Homo sapiens: one gene and its partner. The protein of the gene in region 2 purifies or fractionates together with the protein of the main gene of each other region. This does not show direct contact. Each region holds a gene or a part of one and is shown on either strand. Other genes may lie near its edges.

Region 1 (3,658 bases), on a different chromosome or scaffold from region 2:
CGTCCTTCAATCAGTCATTGTGTGTTTCTTGAACACTCCATTTCTGGTTTTGGCTTGTACAGCCTGCCAGGATGTTTAATTTGTTATTCACTGTGTAAAGTGGGGCCTCCTTGCCTGTGCCTTTTGAAGCTTTAGGGGCTGCCCCATGGTCACGTGTTTGTTCTTGCTGTTTAAGCTCTAGTCAAATGCCCTCTTGGCTTCTGCCTTTCCAGACTGAGATCATAAGTTGCTCCACCCTCACACCCAGTCCCTCCTCCATCCATTTGCCATCTCTCTTCTCTGGGCCAGTCCCACCTCTGTGTCAGGCTGAGCAGCGGCTGTCCACCCGGCTGGGCATCAGTACCCCCTGGGGAACTTTCCTGAAACCGCAGATGCTCAGTCGCCACGCCCTGCAGATTCCGATTCTCTCTGGTGTTGGGTGGGTTCTGGGCCTCTGTACAGGTGGCAGCACAGGTGATTCTCATGTGCAGGCAGGGTTGAGACCCGCTGGTTTGAGTAGTAGAGGGTAGGTGTCCTCTGCTTGTATACGAGGAAATGTTTTCTGTTGTGTAAAGCATCTTGTTGGCCCTCGTCACCATGGTGAACGCCTCATGGATGGTGACAGCAACTCTCACAGCCCTTCCTGTGGTCTGGGACTTTTAAAGTCCACCTGAGTGCTTTTCCTCTCAGACAGTGTGTGTGCATGTTTCACCCTTGCATCCAGGGATAAGTCTCCCCTGCTTGGCATTTCCCCATTGATACCTCCCAGACTCATTACTCATCCTGTCTCTAGGGTTATGCTGCATTGTAGGCTGACATCAGGATTTGAAGGCAGAGTTTTGTCCCTGGCAAAGGTAAAGAAGACTGGAAAGAGGGTGAGCAAAGCACATTTGAACTCCAGGGAATCTTGGATTCTAGATCCTGACATGAAAGGCCCTGTTGGCCTGTGGACATGCGTGGTGGAAACCCGGGAGACAGTGTGAAGCAGGGCTCTCACCTTTGTGTGGTGCAGTTGACGTTTTGATGGCTCTCTTTGGCGGGAGGGGCTGTCCTGTGCGTTGCAGGATCCTTAGCAGCACGGTAGCATCCTTGGACCTACTCACTAGATGCCAGTAGCACACACCTCCCCTCACTCGCGGGGTCGTCATGACAACAGAAGAAGTCTCCTGACACAGCCCCTGGGGAGTGGGGGTGGGGAGGCTGCAGAATCGCCCCCAGGTGAGAGACTCACTGGTATCGATGGTGGGGACACAGGCTTTGGTCCTCAGAGAGCTGGGTTTGTGTTTTAACTCCGCTGTCCACTCTGAGTCATTTGGGGCAAATTTCTTAACCTCTTTGAGCCCCCCGTTTCCACACCAATAAAATGGGAATAATGGTAACCACACCCACCTCGTGGTTGCTGTGAGCATTGAAGGAATGAGTGCACATACATTGTTTAGCACCAGTCTCTGCTCATAGTAATAAACACTCAGGTCACTGTTTTTACTACAGTGCACTCTGCTCTGGACACATTCAGCTGAAGGGTTCAGCAAAGTCTCCATTGTGTGGGTGAACCTGCCCCACTCAGAGTTGGCCCTGGGCTGAGCCCCTGGCAGAAGACCAGCAGGGCCTGGGCTCTGGGTCCTCCTAAGTTCTGTCCTGCCTGTCACTTAGTGATCTCAGGGATCCCAGCCTGAGCACTACAGACATCTGGGGCCAGGTAATTCTCTGTTGTGGGCGATTGCGCTGTGCACTGTAGGATCTTAATGAGGATCCCTGGCCTCTACCCCACTAAATGCTAATAGCACATCCCCCTCCTCATCCCCGCCAGTCATGACAGTGGAAATGTCTCCGTCCCAGTGTCCCCCCGGGGGCAGAGTTGCTTTCAGTTGAGAACTACTGATTTAAAAGCCTGACCAGGTATGAGTCGAGAGATTTTTGAGGGTGGTTTGGCTTCTCTCAGCTTGCACCTTGTTGACTTAAAACCTAGCCCCTGAGAGGGTGAGATGCAACTGAATTTTTATTGGTTAGCTAGAACTGAAATAGTTGGAACCTATCTTAAACAACTTTTGGAAAGTTTCTCGTGAATTTATTATAAAAACTAATTCTGGGATTTTTGCTTAGAGCAGAATGTGTGCTTTCACCTCCACTGTGCCTCCTGTATCTGTAGCAGAAGGGGCCTGATGGTACCCAAGGGGTATCCAGGCTGCAAAATCTTTATACTCTTTGAAGAGACTTTCCATTTTGCCCAGGATCCTGCGTATAGACAGAAAAGCCCTCACTGGGCTTCTGCAAAATGTTTCAAACAAGCCTTCAGCCTGCCTCTCCGTTTACCAGAAAATGGGATTTTCCCGGCACCCTCGTGCATTCATTAGGTGTTAGGGTCAACCTGGGTCTGGTGTGTGCTCCTCCTCTGAGGTGGTCAGAGTGAGCAGAAGCAGCAGGAATGGGGTGAGCTTCGAGTGGCATTTGGAGGAGCTTGGGGTGGAGAAGGGGGGTTGAATTCTGCCCTCCTACGTGAGTTCAGACAGTGAATAGGCCTGGGTGTAGTGGGAGACGAAGGCCATTTGGGGAAAGTTGAGATGCATTTGGGGAATCTGAGAAGAGAGCGCCGTTCCTCAAAACTTACCAGAGGACCACAAAACTGCCGAGATGGCTGGTATTGGCTTGGCTGGGCATTTGGTAGCTCTCCATGGTACTTTGAAGCAATCGTGAGGCAGTTGGGCTTGCATCATTATCTATTCAGGGTCTGGTGGTGATGTTTTCTTTGTTTTAGGGGGTCCTGGTGGAGCGGTGTTCTGTTTGACTCTGCCCTACGCAGTAGAGAATAACGTGGCCTGGGACATCAGGGTAAAGCTCCTCACCACCACCTTCCACATGTCCACAGTTTGCTTCCTCCTCAGTAGTCTTGGCACTTAGAGCTGCCACACAGCACTAGCTATGGATCTCAGCCCTGGATGGGCTTCACACTTGTTTAAGGAGGTTGTCAGGGAAAATCAAAACTGCTGCCTGGGCTGCACCATTGGAGATGGTTCCAGGAGTTCTAGGGTGTCTGTGGTTTTAAAGAGCTCCACAGATGTTTAACAACATGAAGCCAGAGTTGAAAACCACAGGCAGAAGTTGCAAACTTGCCTGAAGGGCAAGCAGACATATTTAATTTGGCCCATTTAGGTTTTTGTTTGTAATTAGGAGCCAACACTTAAAATTCTGAGATTTCAGAGGGGAAAAAAATTGTATTTCTGATTTCTCTCAGAAAACAGCAACCACCCTTGGCCTGCATTCTTGCACAGCAGTGATTTTTCAGTGCTAAGGAACAGCTGCGCCTGTGGATAGATTAGATTGGATATTGTGGTCTCCGCCATGTTACTTGGGGCCTAGCCCACTTCCTTCTCTTCCAGTGCCTGTGACCTTGGTTGGTATTTGGGTTTCAATCCTATTATACAGACTCCTAGACTCTGCATTCTCTACACTTAGAGTGCTCTTTAGCTAGAACCTTAGCATAAAGCACCTCATGGTCTGTAATTTAGGATTTAGTGTCCTTGGAATGCTAGAACTCAGATAGCATATGGCAGCAGTTCTCAAAGATGGTCCGGGGCCCTGCAGTCCCCAAGACCTTTTCAAGGGGACTGCAAGTTCAAAACTATTTCATAACAACACAAAGACACTATCTGCTCTTTTTTCACTCTTATTCACTTGAAAA
Region 2 (2,309 bases):
AGGTTACAGATGCTGTGAGTAGGAAAAATATATGTGTATATTATTTACTTTTTATTGAGGTACAACATATATAAATTGCACTAATTTTATGTATACCTGACTCAGATCAAGGGATGGAACATTTCCAGCACTAAGAAGTTTCTTTTATTCCCCTTCTCAGCCTATACTCCCACCTTCAGAGGTCATTTCTATTCAGACTTTCGTCACCATACATTAGTTTTGCTCATTCTTCTTCTTCTTTTTTTTTTTTTGAGATGGAGTCTCGCTGTGTTGCCCAGGCTGGAGTGCAGTGGCACAATCTCAGCTCACTGCAACCTCTGCCTCCTGGGTTGAAGCGATTCTCCTGCCTCAGCCTCCCGAGTAGCTGGGACTACAGACGTGTGCCACCACGCCCGGCTAATTTTTGTATTTTTCATAGAGACAGGGTTTCGCCATGTTGGCCAGGCTGGTTTCCAACTCCTGACCTCAGGTGATCCACCCACCTTTGCCTCCCAAAGTGCTGGGATTACAGGCGTGAGCCACCGTGCCCAGCCAGGTTTGCTCATTCTTGAGCTCCAAATAAGTGGAACCATCCCGTATGTGTTCTTTTGTATTTGGCATCTTTCATCTTTCATTCAACATCATGTTTATGAGATGTATTCCTCTTGATTCTTTTTTTTTTTTTTTTTTTTTGAGATGGAGTTTCACTCTTGTTGCCTAGGCTGGAGTGCAATGGCGCGATCTCAGCTCACTGCAACCTCTGCCTCCCAGGTTCAAGTGATTCTCCTGCCTCAGCCTCCCGAGTAGCTGGGATTACAGGCATGCGTCACCACGCCAAATTAATTTTGTATTTTTAGTAGAGACGGGGTTTCTCCATGTTGGTCAGGCTGGTCTCGAACTCCCGACCTCAGGTGCTCCACCCGCCTCGGCCTCCCAAAGTGCTAGAATTACAAGCAGGAGCCACCACGCCCGACCATTATTCCTCCTGTTACTTGCAATTGTAAATTGTTTGTTTTCACTGTTGTGTAGTATCCCATTGTATGATTATACCACAGTTAATTTATTCACTCTATTGTTAATGAACATTTGGGTTGTTTATGGTTTGGGGCTATTATAAATAAAGCTGCTATGAGCTTTCTTGTACATGTCTTTGGTGGACATATATACATTTATGTCTTTTGTGGGGAAGAGATCTTGCCAGGGATATGAAGTTCCAGGTTGGAAAATGGGCAGTTGTGGTTAATGGCTCTTGCCATGAGATCTAGAGCTTGTCTATGTTTCAAAAGGCTGGAATTCTTTTTTCTAAAATAATTTTTTTCTTTTATTATTACTCTATAAGGCTGGAATTCTAACCTGAGCTGCTGGACCTTTCCCACGGGCAAGTAGAAGCCAATTCTAGAGATATGATAGCCTGATTTAGCAAAGGTGCAAGGAGAGGCCCAGGTACCCTGACAACTTGGGGGATTCTAATTTGTCATCTTCTGTTTCCATAAGGTTTTGGGCCTCTCAGAAGGGGCAACAAATGAAGAAATACATCGGAGTTACCAGGAGCTAGTGAAGGTCTGGCACCCAGACCACAACCTGGACCAGACAGAGGAGGCACAGAGGCACTTCCTGGAGATCCAGGCTGCGTATGAAGTCCTGAGTCAACCCAGGAAGCCCTGGGGATCCCGGAGGTGAAAAGAAACTTCCCCCTGAGGACTGACTCTTCCTAGCAGAGCTGGGCAACTTGTCCCAAATCTAGCTTTGCCCACGAATGGCATCCCAACAGAGTTAAAGAAACTGCTTGCAGGGGCTGGGCGTGGTGGCTCATGCCTGTAATCCCAGCACTTTGGGAGGCCGAGGCGGGCAGATCACGAGGTCAGGAGTTCGAGACCAGCAGCCTGGCCAATATAGTGAAACTTCGTCTCTACTAAAAATACAAAAAATTAGCCAGGAGTGGTGGCAGGCACCTGTAGTCCCAGCTACTTGGGAGGCTGAGGCAGGAGAATCACCTGAACCTGAGAGGCGGAGGTTGCAGTGAGCCGAGATCACGCCACTGCACTCCAGCCTGGGCAACAAGAGTGAAACTCCGTCTCAAAAAAAAAAAAAAGAAAGAAAAACTGCTTGCAGGGGACATGAGAAAACAATGGGGTGAGAAAAGGTTGTGGTAGAAGGATGTGTTTATATTCTGAATTTCTGAATTCTTGGCTATTGCATTCTTGACAATTTTTCTTAAAACCAGAGAGTGAAAGGCATATTATAAAACAATCAAATATCTTTTAGAGTATGGACAACTATTATATATCAATAAAAAATTAATTAGAAAAAATATATCTTTTAGAGAACAC

The links. Proteins that work in one complex are often made in the same cells at the same time.
Region 1: the proteins of DNAJC22 (region 2) and RANBP3 purify together in Homo sapiens (affinity purification with mass spectrometry, with the first as the bait; one large-scale study listed by BioGRID). This does not show direct contact.

The regions. Positions count from the first base shown.
Region 1 is NC_000019.10:5,971,546-5,975,203, reverse strand, and holds part of RANBP3 (ran-binding protein 3), read left to right. Parts: intron 1-772; exon of another isoform or gene 773-854; intron 855-3,658. UniProt on the Homo sapiens protein: Acts as a cofactor for XPO1/CRM1-mediated nuclear export, perhaps as export complex scaffolding protein. Bound to XPO1/CRM1, stabilizes the XPO1/CRM1-cargo interaction. In the absence of Ran-bound GTP prevents binding of XPO1/CRM1 to the nuclear pore complex.
Region 2 is NC_000012.12:49,349,844-49,352,152, forward strand, and holds part of DNAJC22 (dnaJ homolog subfamily C member 22), read left to right. Parts: coding exon of another isoform or gene 1-14; intron 15-1,318; coding exon of another isoform or gene 1,319-1,357; intron 1,358-1,473; coding exon 1,474-1,659; 3' UTR 1,660-2,309.